Linked DNA regions of Homo sapiens. The protein of the gene in region 2 purifies or fractionates together with the protein of the main gene of each other region. This does not show direct contact. Each region holds a gene or a part of one and is shown on either strand. Other genes may lie near its edges.

The links.
Region 1: the proteins of AP4S1 (region 2) and GALNT2 purify together in Homo sapiens (affinity purification with mass spectrometry; one large-scale study listed by BioGRID and IntAct). This does not show direct contact.
Region 3: the proteins of AP4S1 (region 2) and GOLIM4 purify together in Homo sapiens (affinity purification with mass spectrometry; one large-scale study listed by BioGRID and IntAct). This does not show direct contact.

Annotation. Positions count from the first base shown.
Region 1 is NC_000001.11:230,248,724-230,252,376, reverse strand, and holds part of GALNT2 (polypeptide N-acetylgalactosaminyltransferase 2 precursor), read right to left. Parts: intron 3,194-3,653; coding exon 3,106-3,193; intron 1,921-3,105; coding exon 1,817-1,920; intron 1-1,816. UniProt on the Homo sapiens protein: Catalyzes the initial reaction in O-linked oligosaccharide biosynthesis, the transfer of an N-acetyl-D-galactosamine residue to a serine or threonine residue on the protein receptor.
Region 2 is NC_000014.9:31,063,551-31,067,203, reverse strand, and holds part of AP4S1 (AP-4 complex subunit sigma-1), read right to left. Parts: intron 1,079-3,653; 5' UTR 1,008-1,078; coding exon 870-1,007; intron 1-869. UniProt on the Homo sapiens protein: Component of the adaptor protein complex 4 (AP-4). Adaptor protein complexes are vesicle coat components involved both in vesicle formation and cargo selection. They control the vesicular transport of proteins in different trafficking pathways.
Region 3 is NC_000003.12:168,085,837-168,089,489, forward strand, and holds part of GOLIM4 (Golgi integral membrane protein 4), read right to left. Parts: intron 1-3,653. UniProt on the Homo sapiens protein: Plays a role in endosome to Golgi protein trafficking; mediates protein transport along the late endosome-bypass pathway from the early endosome to the Golgi.

The DNA.
Region 1 (3,653 bases), on a different chromosome or scaffold from region 2:
TTGCTTAAATGACATAAGGACTTACATGATTAGGAAAATGGGAAGCTCTGGTCATTCCAGCGGGGCACACGTTGAGGAGGTGGTTTTGGATCTTACTCGGGCCTCTCTGCACCATACACCTCTCCCAATGCACACCCACAGAGGCCCCTCAGGTTGGCAATGGCTAGTAGTGTGCACGGCCCCCAGAAGCAGAAGCTAGAGCAGTGCTAAGGAGAAAGGCTCACGGCATGGCCTTCTCACGTGAAGCTCTTGAGCCCTCCAAACCTCACTGGGAGTCCAAGTCCTTGGCATAACCCAGGAGAGCCCCTCACGGAGGGACAGATGCCCCAGCCTTCCTGGGCAGAGATGTGCTCCTGCTTGCAGGGTTCATCTTCACCCCAACCTGAACCGCTCAGACCCTAGAACCTTCTAGCACAGCTACATAATAAATACAAACACCAAACCACAATAAAGCAGCTCCTTACAACAAATCTACCCCCCAGTCTCTGGGTGAATGCCTCCTTAGATATGTAAATCAACACTCTTCCTACACGATGACACAAAATGCTGGCTGATGTCTCATTTCAGCTAATAGTATGCAAACTTCTGAAAACCACACTGTTTTTGAGAAATGGCCACCTACACGATACGCTGCCCTACTGGGCGACCCTGGCCTGCTGGATTTCCACTAAACCATTAGGGGATACCCATGGAACAGGGTGACAGAACTCTCTTTAGAGGGTTAACAATTCTGAAGCCTTTTGTACTCAAGTGACTTCAATCCAAGCTTTCCCTAGAGGTTAATGTATCATTTTTTTAAAACAACCCAAAAGGAGTTTGACTCACGGTCTCTCCACCCGTGCAGTATAGTAATCGAGCCTAAAGAAGCTTTCAACATCAAACCAAGGCAGAGAAATCCTCAAAGATGAGATGGTATCACTGACTTCAACATCATAAAACAATGGAAAAATAATAGGCTAGGCTAGTCTTTTCTTTTAAAGTAACAAAAACTTTCAAAGTCTCAAAACTATTAAAAATGAGTGGCCTCATTTTCCCCTTTCCTTCTCCCCTGTCCTCCAGGGTACACTCACCCAAGGACGAATGTAAGTTAACAACACTCAGCAGCCCAGGAGAATTCGCTCAGAATGTCAAGCATTTGAAACAAAAGGCTTTAATTGAAACAAGCAAAAAAGATCTCCCCCACTCCAAACCCTAAACAAACAAAACACATCTTTTCATCTTTTATGCAGTAAATATAAGGCTACCAATATAGACCACAATGTGCAAAATTTTGCTGTGCCTAAACCTGGGTAAAAATAATTTGCATGGGGTATTTAAAAACAAAAAAACAAACAAACAGAAAAACAAATGAGAACCATTCGCAAAGGTAGTCGAGAAGGGATTAAGTGCCAAGGCCTCCCTGCCCCATCGGATTTTCATGATTTCAATTCAATCAATCCCACCAGCCTCGCCGGGGTTCATTTTCCACTCTCCACCACTCAGCATGAATCTGAGCTCCTGGACTGTTTCCCTCTGTTTTTGCAAGCCTGCAACATTCCAAACACTTGGGTTCAGACGCCTTGAAAGAGTTTGCATTTCCCTTCAAAGACTTTATCCGTATTCTGGCATCCTCCACTCTAACCTAGGGAGGCACATTTTAATGCCCAACTCATGAGACTTTCAAGAGCAAAAGGGGTGTTACATATGTGTTTGCAAGGATCGATTAAGCCCAGTGAATGGTCACTCTGAAGCCTTTTAAATTTTTTTTCCAATTGGCACCCTGCCTTTTGCAGAGCTGAGGCACTTCTCTGTCCTGAGATTTGAGGCTTGTACATACCTAGGTTCTCTCCTCCCCACACATCCATCATCATGTCGTACTTCCCCAGTTCTTCAAAATAGAACTTATCCATCACAAACAGCCCACCAGCAATCATGGGGGTTCTAAAGAGGCAGAAAGAAGAGGGGGGAGGGAGGAGAGGGCAAAGTCAAGGTTAGATTGCCAGCACCCTTGCGCCAAGGCCAAGCCTTGATTCCCTAACAATAAGCTGATCTTCAGAACAGCCACACTGCCACTGTTTTCTGCTCAGTGCCCAGCATGCCACTCTCTCTGCTTCACCACTGCTGCCTTCAAATGCCTCCCCCACTGTCCCTGCCTGGATGTTCCCACAGTGCCAGGGGCTGGACTGAGCCTCCCCTATGTGGGAGCGACTGCTGGGGCTGGATCACTACTCACTGACATGCTGCCATAGGCAAAGAACTCGGCCTTTCTGTGTGTCAGTTTCCTTATAGGGTAGCTACGAGGATTGCAAAAAATCATGGGCATAAAGCCCTGAGCACGCTTAGGAAATGCTCCACAGCACCAGCTCTCATTATCACTATCATAGATGAGACTCCACCTCCTACAAGGGAACCCACCATGCTCCTCACTTCATCATCCCAGGAAGGGGTTGACAACAGATGTACACTGAGCTCCCTACTTTGTTCCCAGAAGCGATGCTGTGCGAATTCAGTGTAAAGTGCTGGGAAGGTCTATGGCACACTGCAGATGTTGGCTAAATGTCAGCAAATATATTTCAGCGCTAAGTACTCTGTGAATGCTATCTCACTTAACCGTGTGCCAACTTGGAAGAGGTGGCCCCCTTCTCTCCCCAGCTAGAGAAGGCATCCTGACTCTCAACCAGAAAGCCCACCGCCCGGCCTGGGAATCTTAAAAGCATGGGCTTCATGAGCATGGGCTCCTTCCTCTGCAGGAGAGCAAAGGCCTGCTGGGCAGTAGCAGCAGTAAGCCTCCTGCTGCCCACCAAGCCCCTTTTCCTGGGCCTGGGGTCAGCTCGGAGATCCTGCTCTGCTACAGAAACGCTCTACATTATCAACATACAGGAATGCACAGACCTAGCAGATAGGCCTTATAAACCTATGTGAGACTTCAACTGTGGAAAAGAAATCTCCAAGGATTTTATTCTATGACCTGGTGGAAGGTGCTCATCTTTGAGCTGAGACGAGGGGAAACCGGAGGGCAGAAGGTGAACAGCCCCCACTGGGTCTCCAGGCGGTGCGGGCCCAGCAAAGAAGCTGGAACCTGGGGTCTCATCTGGGAGGGGCACCCTGAAGGATGCTGGCACTTACTTTATAGGGGCGACTGGGTTCCCCTGCCGGGACCTTCTCTGCTCAGGCGTCATGTAATCCCACTTGAATACCAAGTTCCAATCAAAACCTGCCAGCCAGGAAAAGAAACAGGGTGTTGACAAGAGACTGGCCACTTCCTCCCGACACCCCCATTCCTCACAGCTTAAAAATATTCGATGTTTGGACAGAACTCAATGAAAACCAAAACAAAGCCAAAAAAGAAGGTGTGGAGGAGAGAGAAGGGGACTGGGGGCGTGGGTGTAGCTGAAGAGAGAGACCGGCAGTGAGGGTGAATGTTGAAATCTTCTCCCTGCCCCTCCCTAAAGAAAATGTGAGTCAGGCTTTTCTAATATTGAAATGCATAGGAAAAAATGAAATATGGGGAGAGAACTGGGGTCTGTGTGGTGATAACCAGGGCATGTCCAAGGGCTGTAAGGATGTGAGGAAAAAGAGCATCCAACATGAAAATCAAGCCGTGGTACCTCCAACACTGCCCCAGGGGAAGGCAATGCTGGGGAGGGAACGAGGCTTTGTCAGTTCCCTGGGCC
Region 2 (3,653 bases):
AGAGTTTTGCTCTTGTCGCTCAGGCTGGAGAGCAATGGAGCAATCTTGGCTCACTGCAACCTTCACCTCCCATGTTCAAACAATCCTGCCTCGGCCTCCCCAGTAGCTGGGACTACAGTTGTGCACAATTACGCCCAGCTAATTTTTCACCATGCTGGCCAGGCTGGTCTTGAACTTCTGACCTCTAGTGATCCACCCGCTTCAGCCTCCCAAAGTGCTGGGATTACAGGCGTGCGCCATTGCACCCAGCCTTAACCTCCATTTTGGAAGATGGATAAATTTGTTGTTTCACATGAATTCTTAATTTCCGTTTTCCCCACCTAGATAATCAAATTTGTTTTGTTTTTAAATCACTGGTTTCAGTATTATATTGGTGGTATATTTACAAAAATAATAAGCAGAATAAAACCACCCGATTTGAGAATAATATTATTATCCTCTGGCACAAAATGGGTCTTCAGTATTCACCTCTACACCAATCATCTGATCTTCATTTTTTGGCTTATAGAAAGCTACCTGATACAGGCACTCATGAGAGTTTCAAGGGCTGAATTCATAGGAATGAAAAAAGAAGAGGTGTGTCTATTAGCAGAAGGAAATTTTACTGTCGTTTCCAAGGTGCATTGAGACAAATATGCTGACTTAAATAAGAAGCCAAGATTCTTCCAGGTTTTCCTTGTTTTTGTTTTCTTAAAGGGATGTAAAGAGAGCTATGCTTCTTTCAGTTTTTCATTTCACATCACTTATTTTCTTTAGTAGCTGTTGAAGGAATATAGCTCAAAGAAAATGATGGCCCCTGAGACTCACTAATAACAAATCTGCCAAGGCTGAGTTGAATGCAGAGATAAAAGAGAGAACCAGAGACTTACTTGTTCATTGGATCGAGAGAGACAGCTCTTTATGACTTCTGTTTCCAGAAGTGTACGCTTATTAATATCCACATGTTCATAGTACTTAGAAAGTCGAGTCTGCCCTTGTTTATTCACCATGAGGAAAAATTTTATCATTTTTCTTTCCTGGCCAGTATTTTTCCAAATACAGTTCAAAAGTTATGACAAGGGATGGCTGTAACTGGAACCTTGAAGACAAAAACAAACAAAACCAGAAAGGCAAGATCAAATTTCTCAAATAATTATATTAAATGTTTTTATAGATAAACAGTAAATAAAGTAGTAGTAAATATCATCTGATAATATCAGTCTTTATTCCTATGAACTAATTGAGGTTTTAATAAATAAAAACCAGGCCGGGTGTGGTGGCTCATGCCTGTAATTCCAGCACTTTGGGAGGCCGAGGCAGGTGGATCACAAGGTCAGGAGATCGAGACCATCCTGGATAACATGGTGAAACCCTGTCTCTACTAAAAATACAAAAAATTAGCTGGGCGTGGTGGCGGGGGCCTGTAGTTCCAACTACTTGAAAGGCTGAGGCAGGGGAATGGTGTGAACCCCGGAGGCGGAGCTTGCAGTGAGCCGAGATTGCGCCACTGCACTCCAGCCTGGGCAACAGAGCAAAACCCTGTCTCAAAAAAATACATAAATAAATAAAATAAAATAAAAAAATAAAAACCAATGATAAATTTTCATCAGTTATTCTCCAAAATAATTCTGAGCAACTGCAGTACTTCTGTTTCTATTCATTCAATTTACTCATTCATTTTGCTGGGTAACAACGATGTGTCAAGCACCAGAAGAATGTGAAGATGAAATAGTAAGGACTTCTGATCTTCTGATTTTTACATCTAGCAAAGGTGCTAGGTAGGTAAACAACGGCAGTACAAGGTGATGAGTTATAACTGGGACAGGTCCGCTTCCATAGGTGTACAGAAGGGAGGGACAAGGAACATCACAGGAGAGTGAAGAACTGCTTCCCGGAGAAGGGGCACTGATGTGAGGTCGTGAAGAATGAGCTACAGGGGAAGACTGAGGCAGAGAAAACAGGTATGAAAGCTCTGGAAAGTTCACTGGGGCTGCAGTTCAGGGCATGGGAAGAATAGTTGCAGGAAATTAAGCTACTCACATATGATATAATTGGCTTTAGAAGTCATGCTAAGGAATTTGGGCTTTATTTTATGGGCAATGGAGACAAGATCTATAGTAAAGCTTTTCTTTCCTTAGTGGTGGAAATAATAGTAGTGATATCAATTTATCAAATTCCTCCAGGCCCTATAACAGGCTCTGTAAGGTGCTGTGCTGAGCAATTCTCACAATTGTTTGAGGTAGGTACTTCTGTTATCCTTACTTTATTTTTGAGATAGGGCCTCGCTCTGTCACCCAGGCTGGAGTGCAGTGGTGCAATCTCAGCTTACTGCAGCTTCTGCCTCTGGACTCAAGTGATCTCCCCACCTCAGCCTCCTGAATAGCTAGGATTATAGGCATGCACCATCACGTCCAGCTAATTTTTTAACTTTTTGTAGAGATGAGGTTTCACTATATTGCCAGCCGTTCTTGAACACTTAGGCTCAAGTGATCCTCCTGCTTTGGCCTCCCAAAGTGTTGGGATTACGGGCGTGAGCCACCTTATCAAGTCTGTTATCCTTACTTTAAGGTCAAGCAGGTTAAAGTTTAGAAATAAAGACACTTGGTCAGGCGCGGTGGCTCATGCCTGTAATCCCAGCATTTTGGGAGGCCAACACAGACGGATCATTTGAGGTCAGGAGTTCAAGACCAGCCTGGCCAATATGGTGAATCCTTGGCTCTAGTAAAAATACAAAAATTAACTAGGCATGGTGGTGCACACCTGTAATCCCAGCTACTCAGAAGGCTGAGGCAGGAGAATTGCTTGAATCCGGGAGGCGGAGGTTGCAGTGAGCTGAAATGGTGCCACTGTACTCCAGCTAAGGGAGGAGAATCTCTTGAGCCCGGGAGGTGGAGGTGATAGTGAGCTGAGATTGTGCCACTGCACTCCAGCCTGGGTGACAGAGCAAGACTCTTAAAAAAAAAGAAAAAGAAAAGAAGATACCCAAAGTCACTGCATGACTTTGTGTCAGAGGTGGGCTGCGGTTCAAAGGCCAAGCACATGCATGGATCCATGACACCCCTAACTCATCCTCCTCATTCAGGGGTTCATGCTTGTGCTGTTATGTCTAACTCAGTTGTATTGAATCTCATATTTGTTTCTCTTACACTCAACATAGGTTTTGGAAAAATCAATGCAAGTGAGCATAATATTCATCAATGGCCAGTCCTTCTTTCATCATGACCACCAGAGCTGGCTGGTCTGGCTCAGCTGACAATATTGTATTCACGTTTTGTGATATCTGTGAGAACCAGTGCAAAAAACTAAGATGAGTAATAGTTCTTAAATGAACTTTAACATTTGAAATTTTAGATTTATAGTAAAGTTGCAAAGATGGCCATTGTTAGCATCTCACATTACCATGGTACATTTGCCAAAACTAAGAAACCAATATTAGTACATTATTATTAACTCCAGACTTTATTTAGAGTTCATCGATTCTTCCACTAATGTCCTCTTTTTGTTCCTGAATCCCATCCAGGATACTATAGTGCATTTAATTGTCATGTTGCTTTAGTCTGTTCTGGTCTGGGACAGTTTCTCAGTCTTCCTCGTTTTTCATGACTTTAACAGTCCTGAGGATACTGGCCCAGGCTGGAGTACAGTGGTACAATCATGGCTCACTATAGCCTTGA
Region 3 (3,653 bases), on a different chromosome or scaffold from region 2:
CAGGAATATCTAGGTATTTTATGCCTGTCCTACCACCATATGTTGGCTGTGTTGAGGGCAGGTAATTTGACTCTGGTTTCACAGATCTACAGATAAAGAGGAAGCATACTTGAAGAATTATAGTTAAAGATTGTATGGATACCTAAGGGGCCTCACCCACACCTGGATCAAATTTGGATGGCATCTAGATTTTGAGGTGATGACCGCCTATACAGTAAAAAAAATTATTTTTCATATTTTAATAAAAGTGATGTTTGACATCAATACAATTTAACTTGTTTTATAGCATCCAAACCTCTAAATAAAATATAAAATAATTTAAAACATTTTCTGTCTGTTAAAAGATTGAGCTACTAATGCAGAAGGGCAAGCATCATAGATTTCTAATATTAATATTATTTATTAATAAATCTCACTAATATAAAACTTGATAAACTTCTCTAAACCAAATTAATCAATTATCAACTGCCAAATTTTAATCTGTTTATAATATTTATTTGACAGCATCATAGCTATTATCAAGAGAACACATAAGCAATGTCAAAGCTGTCCTAAATATCTTGATTTGCAGATTATTTTTTCTGTTTGTAACAAAGATTCCAATTAAAGGAGGCATTTTAAATGAGATGTGAACTGGAAAATGAAATGTCTGACTCTCCTAAAATGATTATAATTTTTTTAACTTCATGCACTCCCAAAGAAAAGCAAATAATATCATTTCAATGTTCTATAATGCCTATCCTTCAGAATGACAGCACATCTTAATTTTCTATTCACTATCATATTGTGACATTTTATGTATGAAAAATAGTTAAAGCAGTATTTTTTAAAATGTCATACGGCTATAGAGAGCAATTTATTTCATGCCCATGTCCCTCCGGGCTATGAGCCTATTTAGTAAAGCTTATCAGTGAAGGACAATGACTGACATGTCTTCTGCATATGCACTCATGGGCCAATAAAAACAAAGAACACAAATATACCATTCAGAAATACACAGCACTGTTTAAAAATAGCAATGCCCATTTCTTCTCACAGAGAAGAGGGTCCTAGTCTACAGAGACAGCACAGAGCAGTGAAGGGGTATTATCTTGTACTGAGAGTCAGAGTATGTGGGCTCTCAGCTTAGCTTAAGCTACCTGGTAAGTGACTTATCCACCTTAGAATTCAGTTAACTAACTGTAAAATTCAGTGTCTGTATCCAACTTGATCAGTCAATGCATTCCTAAACTTCAGACATGCAGGCACCCCTCAGGCGAGTTCTTACTACACTCATGCAAAACCTGTACAGTTTTTTTGAATCCACCAAATAATCACTTAAATAAGTTTATTTTTCCTTAAAATAAACTTTAAACAGGAAACTTTTACACCACTACTTTATAAATGAAAAATCTGATTTACATAGCATTAATGATTGGTAATAGATTTAATTTTAAAATTAAATACAATAATACAACAAAACAATTATCAAATTCTAGCTATCAAGTTGTTGGCTGCCTAACGTCTATTCTCTTTGGAAAAACAGAGAAGCAACTCTCTAGGAGAGAGATTCTAGCATCAGACTGAGAATTTCTCCATTACTTGTCAGGAAAGCATTGAAAGGAAATAAGTTTTTCATTATATGATTCACTGTCATTTCAGGCAACATCTACATGCCACATAAAATCAACTCTAGTATCAACCAAAATCATCTTTCATACCAGCAGCAAATTTCTTGTACCCTGGAAATGCTGCATCAAATAGTACACCCGTTATTTCTGATTCTAAATTTTATCATGAATCCCCATATGACCCACCTAACCTACTTTCTTAAAACCATTAATACTGTCATGAGAGACACTAAAATAATTTTGAGGGCAATGATGCACTATGGAAAAAGTTACATTAGGTTTCTAAGCTTAGTTTCATCAGGCTAGATCTTGACACTGGCAAGTTAATTAACCTCTCTAAGCCTCAGATTGCTCATTCAGATTAAAGTGCTAGTGTCACAGTTAAATGACATAATGCATGTAATAAGCTTAGCATTGAACCCGAACATGGTAGGTACTCAATAAATGTTATGGATTAAAAATAATTTAATTTTCTCAAATAAGTTTTCAAAATTCTACTAAAATTCACTCCAAAGAACACTGGCTAAAAAGAAAATATAGTTTATCATTTTTCTTTTATAATAAAGCTATATGATATATAACTTTCACTTCAAAATAAAGCTATAAAACCCATAAACCATCTACTGGCAAAAGTAGCAAAACCACTTTGTCCTTAATGATAAAAGAAGAACCATTGGCTGTCAAAATGAAAAACAACAACTCTTAGTTGCTATCATGTAAAGCATTTTCAGGTTTTTTCCACCCCAAGAACGGCTCAAAAGGGTAGAAAAGACAGAGTGAGAATATCTTAATCAAAAAGTTTCAGCCAAGTAGGGCACATAGTGAAAGGAGCCACTTTTAGGCCAGCACTAATAACACTCTTACCTACTAGATGTAGTAAAGGCTGGGCAAAATAAAAAGAAGCCCAATGTTAATTCAACAACAGTAGTTCTGGTCACCTAATAAATGGTAGTAGTAATATTCTCCAGGACTCATACTCGTCACTTCAGATGCACTATTTCTAATCCATACAAGTTTGCAAGTTAGACATTGCTAACCCAAATTAAAACACGAAGAGGCTGAAGTTCAGAGAGGTTATTTGCCTGCTCAAGGTCACCCTGCTGGTAAATGCCTGAGTTGCACTGAAACCACATCTGATGCCCCAACCAGCTCTCCAGTCACCATTTCCTGCTGCTTTTCTTTTAGGACATAAAGATGTGAACAAAACTCTTCCTCAGTACTTTGAAAAGTCACCAGGTGATATGTGTCCCCTTTTCTTTCCCTGCCCTCTTCTGGTTTCTCTCCAATCCTTTGCTTTTTGATTCACACCATATTTAGTCAGTATTCATTTCCCCAACTCCAATTCACTTATTCCTTCAGCCACAGTAATGTGGTATTGTACCCCAGCCCTTTTGGAAACTGTCCTTCCTAAGAAAAGAAAGAATAAAAAGAAATCAAGGCAAGGCTTCCAATCTACTTGGAACTTAAACTAAAGGCTCCCAGATAACAAGTAATTCTCTTACACAGCAACCAATTATTTACCTGGACACCAGTACTCTCATTAGAGTTGGCATGTTACATATTAGAGGGATGACTAAGGTGGGCACAACGTGTGAAATCGATTATAGATTATGTGCAAATCATACATATTCAAAAGAATGCTTCACTGAATTAGAGCTTCAAAAGGTATTTGGAAGCTTTTATCTTTTATTCAGGGAAGGAATTTACACACAAATAAAAATTACTGAACTTAAGAGTATTTTTGTTCCATATTCTAAATGGTACAGGATCAAGCAAAAATGATAGTCTCTTCATTTAACTCTAAGTTGTACTTCAGTGAAGATGTCCATTTAATAGACAATGTCTAGTTCATGTTTTAAGTTCTAACGCTGCACTTGAAAATTAGTACACCTACCACACATTGCCCACACTTGTGGTCTAAATTGCTGAGGTCTATGAACCACTCTGTTGTATATGTTTCCTCAATCATCCAAAATGCAAGCTACACCCTTCTAAGCACTGCACATCAGCTAACACTATTGATTCTCAAGATAACCTTTTGTA